Homo sapiens: one gene and its partners. The protein of the gene in region 2 purifies or fractionates together with the protein of the main gene of each other region. This does not show direct contact. Each region holds a gene or a part of one and is shown on either strand. Other genes may lie near its edges.

The links.
Region 1: the proteins of DHX57 (region 2) and MEX3C purify together in Homo sapiens (pull-down; one large-scale study listed by IntAct). This does not show direct contact.
Region 3: the proteins of DHX57 (region 2) and ZCRB1 purify together in Homo sapiens (co-immunoprecipitation; one large-scale study listed by IntAct). This does not show direct contact.

The regions. Positions count from the first base shown.
Region 1 is NC_000018.10:51,187,601-51,191,258, forward strand, and holds part of MEX3C (RNA-binding E3 ubiquitin-protein ligase MEX3C), read right to left. Parts: intron 1-3,658. UniProt on the Homo sapiens protein: E3 ubiquitin ligase responsible for the post-transcriptional regulation of common HLA-A allotypes. Binds to the 3' UTR of HLA-A2 mRNA, and regulates its levels by promoting mRNA decay.
Region 2 is NC_000002.12:38,869,311-38,872,968, forward strand, and holds part of DHX57 (putative ATP-dependent RNA helicase DHX57), read right to left. Parts: intron 1-3,658. UniProt on the Homo sapiens protein: Probable ATP-binding RNA helicase.
Region 3 is NC_000012.12:42,319,437-42,323,094, forward strand, and holds part of ZCRB1 (zinc finger CCHC-type and RNA-binding motif-containing protein 1), read right to left. Parts: intron 3,011-3,658; coding exon 2,982-3,010; intron 1-2,981.

The DNA of each region.
Region 1 (3,658 bases), on a different chromosome or scaffold from region 2:
GGGAGGCTGAGACAGAAGAATCGCTCGAACCCGGGAGGCGGAGGTTGAGGTCAGCAGAGATCACACTACTGCACTCCAGCCTGGGCAATAAGAGCGAAACTCCGTCTCAAAAAAAACAAAAACAAAAACAAACAAAAACCCTAAATCATCTCACGTTTCATGATATATAAGAATGAATGAAGGGGTTGTATTAATAATTTTATACAAAATAAGGTCCCTTTCCCCTTGGAATAGTCTAGACAGAATATTCAAAAGCTCCTTTCATTTTATAGAAACACATAAAATACTGTATTAAGGTGTTACAGTAAATATGGAATTGCCATTAGTTCTATTAATCAATTCTAGTATTCTATCTTCAAAGACTAATGAGTATCAACTAAATCCCAGTAAGAATGTTTCATGTACACAACATTAATTCAACATTTTAAGTAATAATTTAAGAATGCAATGTATTCCTAAATGCATAATATAAAACTAATAGCTTTCCTTTCTAGGGTTCAAGTGGCCTCCTTGTAGCTATTTTAAGGCAAGAATACTGTTTGTCTCACTTTAGGGATTACTATGACAATACTTCAAACACCTTCATTTATGTGATTTTAGTTTCATTATCAGTATTCATATAAACATTTAATGCCTTCAATCAAGTAGCATCTACTGTACTTCAAACAAAAGTGCCAAACAACTTGAGGTTGACTGGGTCCTTACATAAAAAGCTGTTTGGCCAGTTGTGGTGACTTATGCCTGTAATCCCAGCACTTTGGGAGGCCGAGGTGGGTGGACTGCTTGAGCTCAGCTTCAGCTCAGAAGTTCAAGACCAGCCTGGGCAACATAGTAAAACCCCGTCTCTACCAAAAATACAAAAAACTAGCCAGGCGTGGTGGTGTGCACTTACCGTCCCAGCTACTGGGGATCACTTGAGCCTGGGAGGCGGAGGTTGCAATGAGCTGAGATTGCTCTACTGCACTCCAGCCTGGGCGACAGAGTGAGACCCTGTCTCAAAAAAAAAAAAAATTAAAAAAAATGCTGGGAATAAAGGCAAGAGGGAAGAAAACCCCAATTAAAACAATATGGAAAGTACAATGATATAAACAATAAAATGGCAAGTTTATAAGAAAAAAATTTAGTTCAATAAAATAAAAAGGAAGTATTCCACTTTGTTTTAGGTACTTTAACCAATATTAATAATGCAAAGATGACTAAGATTCAGTTCTACCTTCACTGACTTGTATTAACTTCAAGCACTGAAAGTATTTAGTGATACATGTTCATGTACACATAGTGACCTATTTTCTTTTCTTATACTGTTGGTTGGTGACAGTAGTCAGATCTTCTACAATATCCTTGCTGATTTTTGTCTACTTGTTCTACCACTTACTGAGATAGGCACGTTGAAGTCTCAAACAATAATGGCTTGAGACCTTGGATAAGTTGTTTGTAACTCCATAGACTTGTTTATCTGTTCGGTGGAATTAAGAATGGATTAAATGAGATGACACATGTAGTTTTTGCACAGTGCCTGACACAAGTTTGTTGTTATTAAAAGACAAGTGAACTGATTTTTATAGGGAGTTAAAAACATTTAAAGAAACTCCTAAAGATAAAACATATCATAAACTTTGCAAAATTGAGAAGATTTTGCAAAGTCAATCTAACTGGTAATATGAAATCTGGTTTACTTTTACCTCATTTTAGGGACTCTCTTTGGACAAAAATCAGAATATAAGAAATGTGACAGACCACCTAGTTAAATCTCATTTTAGACATGAGGAAAACCGAAGCCTAAAATTGTCCAGTTATAAACTAGTGACCCCTAAACCAATGTTCTCTCAAGCTGCCTTATTTTCCTAAATCCCAATAAGAATATTTCTAGTGTATTTTTAGGAGTGGAGAAGAATTCCCTGCATGTACAAGGTATTTTAAAAAACAGAAGTTAAATTAAATCTAAAACCCCTCTTTTTTCACTTATTTTAGACAAGACAATAAAAAATATTTAATGAAAAGTTTTATTATTTGGCCTTTCAGTAAACCTGAAAGAAAAAACCAGAAGAGGGTGTAAATTAGAGATGAAAGGCAGAAGTTTTCCTAACTGGGGAGCTTGAAATTATGTTCATGCTCTTTGGAGAATGTTAACAGAAACCTTAGAATTATCTGTCTGGGTACCATACAATGGAATTAGATTCATTTGTAAATGATTCTCTTCCAGACTTGCTTAGTTCTTTGCCAGGAAATACATTTCCAAAGCTCTGATTTTAAATAAATTTTAAGACATATTATAAATTTAAAAAATATAACTTACATAATTTATTGGTATAGCCTACGAAAAACTTACTAAAATGACATTTTTTGGCTTTAACTAGCATTTGTTCAGAGTATAAAAGAAATTTAGCAGTAAAAATTTACCTTATCTGATATATAATTTATCATCTCTGTACTTTCAATTGTACTGTCAATTTCTACTAATGCTATCTTCTCAGACTTGATCCTCACAACAAATGAGGGAGAGGGGAGAGAGAAACCTGGAAGAACAAGTAGATGAAGTAGGTTTTTTCCAGAAGAGAAAACAGGCTCAGAGAGGTTAAGTGATTTATCCAAGGTCACAGGCAGCAAGTGCAAAACACAAGGTTTCTAACTCCAAGTCCAATGTCCTTTCCTGCATTATACTAAATGGCACTGGTAGAAAGGCAGAAGAGAAGGCAAAGGGAAAGGGAGGCACAGAGAAGGGAAATAATAATAAAAAGGTCAGCCCCAAATGCAAATATATACTTTTACATTGGTAACCATTTTGGGAGATCTTTTCTAGTTGTTTGAAGCCATTCCCTCCCCACTTCCCCTTCAATCATGTTCAAGACCAAATTACTTATGCTTACCTTCAACTACATCTGCAGTTTTCATTAAAGGATTTTCTTTTATTATTTTAAGGCTTAGTCTTATTATTCCATGATAGACTTTACTTGTGACCAAACCAGGCTTCTCTGCATGCAATGAGGAATTGTAGTCCGTACTTACCGGACAAGGGCAACAAACACTTGAAGTGTCCTTACATCTCAAACACTGGCATGGAAGAGGTCCTATAGTTAGTGTAACTTAAAATTCTCAAAGTCAGTTATAGAATAAAGACTTGAACTACTCAAACAGTATTAGACTATGCATACATTCAATTTAGTATATCTGGGTTTGGTAATCCTAACATTAGAAAATTATTTTCAAGGCTTAAATATCAGATTTAATCTTTGTAAGTCTCTATATAGTAACTAATGGTAGCATGGGGAAAATGTTAAAAGTAAATCCACAAATTATGGCATATAAGCTACTTGGGAAGCATTAAGAATGCAGTTTAATAAAAAAGGTATCACTTAAGGATCACCTGAATATCAATGGAGATTTAAACATAACTATCCATGATCTACTTGGAGCTTCTTAAAAAGCTTTTTTTATTTTTAAGTGCAAATACACTCCTTTAGTATCTTATGAACATTATCTACTTTCTCATCTTGAGTTTGGTTACAAATTCTACATGGCAGGAATGACACTGTTTAGAATTCTATAACAATCCTATAAATTATAAAATAGTACTGTAGTAGTCATCATGGCTCTCCTTGTGGGCACATAGTTGTCATATACTTTCTCAGCCTTTTGAAGTTAGGTGTGGCCAGATGAT
Region 2 (3,658 bases):
AAACCTAAAGGTGCTTTCAAGAATAGTGAGGTTGTGGGGAAAGGGAGATTACAGGATTAAATGAAGATGTAGTTTAGACTGTTGGCCAACTAGTTTGCAGGAAGCAAACCAAGGAATAAGATCACTAGGAAGTTCCTTTTTGGGATTAGAATGAGTATTAAACTGGGATCTCAGAAACTATTGCTTCAAAGAAGCCATACTTTGGTTGGATTAGTTTGTAAAGGAATTTACTCTCCAGAGCATTGTTGAAAACAATTCAGCAATCAACCATGGGCATACCTAAAGCTGTACCTCCCAGAGGAGCAACAACAGAGGCTTAAAATCGTAGGAGGGAAATAGACTTCACTAAAATATTCTAGCCAGTCACTAAAAATTAAACCAGCAAATAACAATAAGAAGCCCCTGAAAGGGGAGAATCAGTACCCAGAGTTGTTACAGTATGTTATCCAAAATGTTCAGTTAACAACAAAAAAGTCACAAGGCATGCAAAGAAACACTTAAGTATAACCCATACACTGGAGAGAAAAAGCACAAACTGCCTATGAGTGAGAACAGATGTCAGATTTAACAGAAAAGGAGTTCAAAATAGTCATTATAAGTATGTTCACAGAAATAAAGGAATGCACAATTAAAGCAGTAAAGGAAGGTATGATGACAATGTCATATCAAATTGAGAACATCAATAAAGAGATAAAAAATTATATATATAAAAAGAACCAAATGGGAATTCTGGAGTTGAAAAGTATACTAATTGAAATTAAAAATTCACTAGAGAAGCTCAACCATAAACATGAACTAGCAAGAGAAAGAACTGATGAACTTGAAGACAGACTGACATTGATTATGCAAGCTGAAAACAGAGAGAACGATAAATGAAGAAAAGTGAACAGAGCCTTGGAAAAATGTGGGACACCATCAAGGGTACCATATACATATAATGAGAATACCAGAAGGAAAGGAAAGAAAGAAAAGAGCAGAAAAAATATTCAAAGAAATAATGGTAGAAAACTTCTCTGATTCATTAAAAATCAATAACCTCTACATGCAGGAAGCTCAATGGCCTCCAACTATTAGAAAATAAACACAGAGATGCACAAAATAGACATGTTGCAATAAAAATGTTGAAGGTCAAAAGACAAAGAGAAAATCATGAAAGGAGTAAGAGAAAAACAACTTATCACTTACAGGGGGGAACCCCAATAAAATTAATGACTGATTTCTTCACAGAAACAATGGAGGGCAGAAGGTAATGACATATATATTTAAAATACTCAAAGAAAAAAATAGGGCTGGGCGTGGTGGCTCATGCCTGTAATTCCAGCACTATGGGAGGCCAAGGCGGGCAGATCACGAGGTCAGGAGATCGAGACCATCTTGGCTAACACAGTGAAACCCTGTCTCTACTAAAAATACAAAAAATTAGCTGGGTGTGGTGGCACACACCTGTAGTCCCAGCTGCTTCGGAGGCTGAGGCAGGAGAATCACTTGAACATGGGAGACAGAAGATGCAGTGAGCCGAGATTGCGCCACTGCACTCCAGCCTGGGTGACAGAGTGAGACTCCATCTCAAAAAAACAAAAAACAAAAAACAAAAAAAAAACAACAAAAAATAGTTAACCAAAAATCCAGAAAAGCTATCTTTCAAAAATGAAGGTAAAATGAAAACTTTCTCAGACAAACAAAACTGAGAGAATTTGTTGTCAATAGACCCGCCTCACAAGAAATACTAACAGTTCTTCAAGTTGAGGCAAGTATCCCTGGATGGTAATTTAAATCTACATGAAAAAACAAAGAGTACTAGTAAAGGTAATTGAGTAATTATTTTTAAAAATCCACATTTATATTGGACATTTATTTATTTGAAAACCAGTACAAAAGTATTGTCTCTTCTTTTCTCTGAAATGATTTAAAAAGCAGTTATATAAAATAATATGTATATGATATAATGTTGGGCATGTCACCTACAAGAAGGTAATATGTATGTAATATATTTGCCAATAACAGCACAAAGAAGATTGGTGGGAGCGTAATTGTGCTGTGCTGAGAAAATGACTACAGACAGTAAAGTAATACTTGTAACAAGTATAGTTGGGTATATAACATTAATAGATATAATATGTATAACAATACTATAAAAAGGAGGAAAGGAATAGAGCTATATAAAAGTAATACTTCTATGTATCTGTCTTAGTCTGTTTTCTGCTATAACAGAATGCCACAGACTAGGTAATTTATAAACAACAGAAGTTTATTTGTCTCATGGTAATGGAGGCTGGGAAGTCCAAGAGCATGATGCTGGCATCTGCGTAGTGTCATCTCATGGTGGAAGATGGAAGGCAGAAGTGGGCACGATACAGAGAGAGGTACCAGCTGCCAGACTTATTTTATAATAACTCATTCTTTTTTTTTTTTTTTTGAGACAGTCTCACTCTGTTGCCCCAGCTGGAGTGCAGTAGCGTGGTCTCAGCTTACTGCAAGGTCTGCCTCCCTGGTTCATGCCATTCTTCCACCTCAGCCTCTGGAGTAGCCGGGACTACAGGTGACCGCCGCCGGCTAAGTTTTTGTTTTTTTGTATTTTTAGTAGAGACAGGGTTTCACCATGTTAGCCAGGATGGTCTCGATCTCTTGACCTTGTGATCCGCCTGCCTCGGCCTCCCAAAGTGCTGGGATTACAGGCGTGAGCCACCGCGCCCGGCCTAATAACTCATTCTTGCTATAACTAACCCACTCCCATGCTAGTGACATTAAACCATTAATAAGGGCTCTGCCCTCATGATCGAATTACCTGTTATTAGGCCCCATCTCCTAACACTGTTGCATTGGAAATTAAATGTCTAATACATGAACTTTGGGGGTAAACATTCAAACCATAGCAATATTGCTGGAATTAAGCTAATATAAATCTGAAGTTGTTCATAAACCCCAAAGCAATCACAAAAATACTACATTAGAAAATATTCACTTAATGACTAAATGCAAATGAAAGCATAAAGTAAGAACAGAAGAAAAAATAGACATTGAGAAATACAGACATCCAAAAGTAGAATAGAGTTAGATGTAATTCTCAGTATATAGACAATAAAAATAAATGTGAGAGAATAAAGCAGTCCAATCAAAAGACAGAGATTGTCAGACTTGATTAACAAACAGGATCCAAATATATTCTGTCTGCAGGAGAGGCACTTTAAATTCAAAGACACAATAAATGAAAAGTAAAAGGATGGAAAAAGATGATCTTGCAAACAGCAACTACAAGAAAGGTGGAGTGGCTATGTTAATAGCTTACAAAACAGACTTTAAAGCAAAAAATATTACTAGAGATAGGGATATTTCTTAATGATAAAAGGGTTAATCTGCCAGGAAATGATAACAATTAAAAACACATATGTACCTAATAATAAGGCACCAAAATACACAAAGCAACAACTGACAGAAATGAAGGGAGAATTAGACAATTCAATAATAATAGTAGGAGACTACAGTACCTCACTTTTAATGGTAGAACAACTAGACAGAGGATCAACAAGGAAATAAAAGACTTGAACAACACTCTAACCAACTAGACCTAATAGGTGTCTATAGAACACTCCACCCAACAACGAACTATACATACTTCTGAAGTACACATGAAACATTTTCCAGGATATAGACCATACTA
Region 3 (3,658 bases), on a different chromosome or scaffold from region 2:
TCCTTCATCTTTCACTGCTCCTTCCCACGCACACACTATGAAGTCTACCCAAAAGAAACCACTCAATGCTCCAGTAGCATGGCCTGTATTTCCCCAAATTTGTGCCTTTGTTCATACAGCTTCTATCTTCTTCCACCTCTGAATCACTGCTCATTAAAATTTTCCTCATTCTTTCGGGGTTCAGGTCAATGTGTCAGTTTCTAATAGCTTCAACTGGATATAATTTCTCCTCCGTTATGCTAGTCTCTGCTGAATTGTGTTATTCATAAACAATGCCTCATCTCATCTATTTTAATGTAAACTCCTTTAAGGCTGTCTCTGTAATCCATATGTGCCCAGCTCAATATGTTGATTGATAGATATACCTTTATATTCAATGGGAAAGACAGACCAAAAAAATGGGAAAAGTAGTTTCTAAAAGAGTACATTGTGTGTGTTCATTCATTCGGTCACTCAGTCACTCTGTTAGCCTCAAGCCCATGTGCTAAGCACTAACAGTAGTTTTTACCCTCAGGAGAAATCTTACAGTTTAGTGGTAGAGACAGACCAACAAACCAACTATCATACAATACTTTGATAGAGATACCTTCTGTGGTAACAGAAAAAAAAAATTACATCAGAGATTTAAAAGGACAAATCTACTGTGACTCCCATGTTTCTGGCAAGGGAAAAGAGGTAGATAATAGCACCATTTCCTAATATAAGGTATATGATGTACTTATTTAAGCACATAATATGAAGCATACACTATTTTGGGAAACCTGAATGTCATCCATAACACCTCCTTCTTGTTCACAAAGTCCTTATACGCAAAGTAAGCATATCACTAAATAGTACCCACTTTGCTTCCTATACACATCACTATTACCCACTTTATTTCATAATGATCTCTGAAATCTGACCACCTCTCAAATCTGACCAGTCTCTATATCTCCACCTGTACTATTTTAGTACACATTTCTCCCCTGGGCTACAGTTTTAGATTCAGACTGGTCTCACTGCATTTGCTTTTTTCTTTTTTTTGCGATGGGGTCTTGCTCTGTCCAGGCTGCAGTGCAGTGGTGTGATCTTGGTTCACTGCAACCTCCACCTCCATCCGCCTCCTGGGTTCAAGTAATTCTCATGCCTCGCCTCCCAAGCAGCTGGGATTACAGGTGTGTACCACCAGGGCCGGCTACTTTTTGTATTTTTTGTAGAGATGGGGTTTCTCCATGTTGGCCAGGCTGGTCTTGAACTCATGACCTTTCAAGTGATCCTCCCACATCGGCTTCCCAAAGTGCTGGGATTACAGGTGTGTGCCACTGCACCCAGCTGCATTTGCTTTTGTTCCCCTCCAATCTAATTTCTACATTAAGCCAGAATAAACTTTAAAAAATTTAAATCATGTCACCCCTCACTTAAAATTCTTAAATGATTCCTGATATTCTTAGAATGAAAACCAAATACCTTGGTAACCTGACCAAGAAGTAAGATGAGGAACCTGCTTCCATCTCTGGAGCCACCTTGTGCTTTCTCCCCCTTACTCACTCATCTCCAGTCACATTGGCCTTCTTTCTATTTCTTGATCTCACTTTATTTTCTCTTGCCACAGGGCCTTTGCACAAGCTATTCCCTCTACCTGAAATATTCCTCCCTTATTTTTGCCTACTTAACTCTTACTCATCCTTTAGGTTTCCACTCAAAAAATACTGACCTAGGTAAGCCTTCCCTGGCTCTCTAGACTAGATAGTCTTCCCTGTTTCTAGGTGCTTATAACTCTCGTGTCTTTAACTCCATTGCAGTTTCATGGTTTAGGACTATATATTTATATGGAGATCCATTCAGAGATTCTAACAAAGTGGAAAAAGAAAAAAGGTAAAAGGGAGTGGGCTCTGAAATCTCACTGTTGGATTCAAATATTTTCTCCACCACTAGCTAGCAAGATGACCTTAGGTTTACTGTGTGCTTCAGTTTCATCATGTATAATACTGAGATGATAATAGTACCTACCTTAAAGGGTAGTTGTGAGAATTAAATAATACACATAAAGAGATTAGAACAATGCCTGGCATATATATGTGCTCATTTAAGTATCACATACCATCATCATTACCAGTGTTTGGACTGATGACAATGACTTTTTAAAATCTGAACACCCAAAAATTTACACAGAAGCATTTTTGATAATGCTTTTTTAATAGCAAAGTAACTGTAAAAGAAGTTAGTAATTTCAAGATGCAAAAGAGCTTCAACTGTTTAATATCCATTTATGGAACACTAGAAGAAATTAGCCAAGATAAATATGCTCAAAATTCTTGGGATTTTAAATTTATATCAGAATCTATATTGGTTACAAGAAAGTTAGGATGACAGTATCCTGTTACTTTTTTGCCCCATAATATAGTTGCTTGATTTAAAACAGTGAAATACGAGAAGTTCAAGTTCTTTTTATTGTTCCTAACCCTCAGCCCTGTTATCATCCATTACCATTTTTGCATGTTTCTAGTCTTTCCAACGATCTCCAAGCTATCTCTGAAGGAAGATAATATGTTTTCTATTTAAAAGACTCATAGCATCCTGCAAGTCAGATGCACTGAAATATTTGTTTTTACACTATTTATATGAAAAAAAACAAAACAAAAAACCACCTATTTATTTGAAAGTAGGTTACTTATAGTATACTTGATAACACACTTCCTAGTAACCAAAATATTTGTTTACCATTAGCTATGAGGATGTATCTTTATAGCACATGGAAAGACATTTATGGTATGTCAAATTAAAAAAGAAAAGAAAATTGTATGTATGTAATAGTCTTTAAGAAAAATTGTCTACATGTTTATGTACATGGAAAACCAACTAAATTGTCATAAAAATGTTAATAGTATTTTCTTTATTATATCAAGCATGTTTTATTTTTAAAAATCTGTCATTAAAAAAATGTAGAAGCAAATTCAGATAAACTTTTAAATGAAGTTACAAAATTTAATGTGAATACTTACTTTACAACTTTGCCATACTTGGAAAATATCTGAAACAAAAGACCAAATATTTACAATTTATTTTAAAATCATAAAACATCAAATTTTTAGGTTGCAGACATTGACCAAATTCTTTGTTACAGTTTATGAATAATTTCAGCCTTCAGTCTATAAGACAGGCCCTAGGAAAAAGTTTTTTTTGGTTACTAGAATAATATACTTACTGTTGTTGGAGTCACATGTATCTGTCTGTTTCTAAATTTGACAATGGAGTAAATACAGAGAAAAAAACTCACTCTACACATGTGGTAGATCTAAGGCATACATACTGGACAGCTGCTGTGTTCCTGAGGTATACCCATGGCAACTATCAACTCCATCATAGTGCCAGATACACCTGTGCTTCAAATGTCAATCTTATGGAGCAGCACTTTTCCAATTCTACCCTCACCACTACCTTGTTATTCCTATTAAGCAATCCCTGTTTGAGAAGGCAAATCCTTAGACTGCTTTATTTAAAAAACAAAACAAAACCTCATAAAATAAGCTTTTATAATGAAAAATCCATTTCTATCAGTCTTCTTCCTCTGCCCACCATTAACATGTTGGTGGAACTTTATACTTGGCTCTCTCTTCTGTTACTTTTACTTTATCCTATGCAATCTCATTTATTTCTACAGTTCCAGCTCATTACCCAT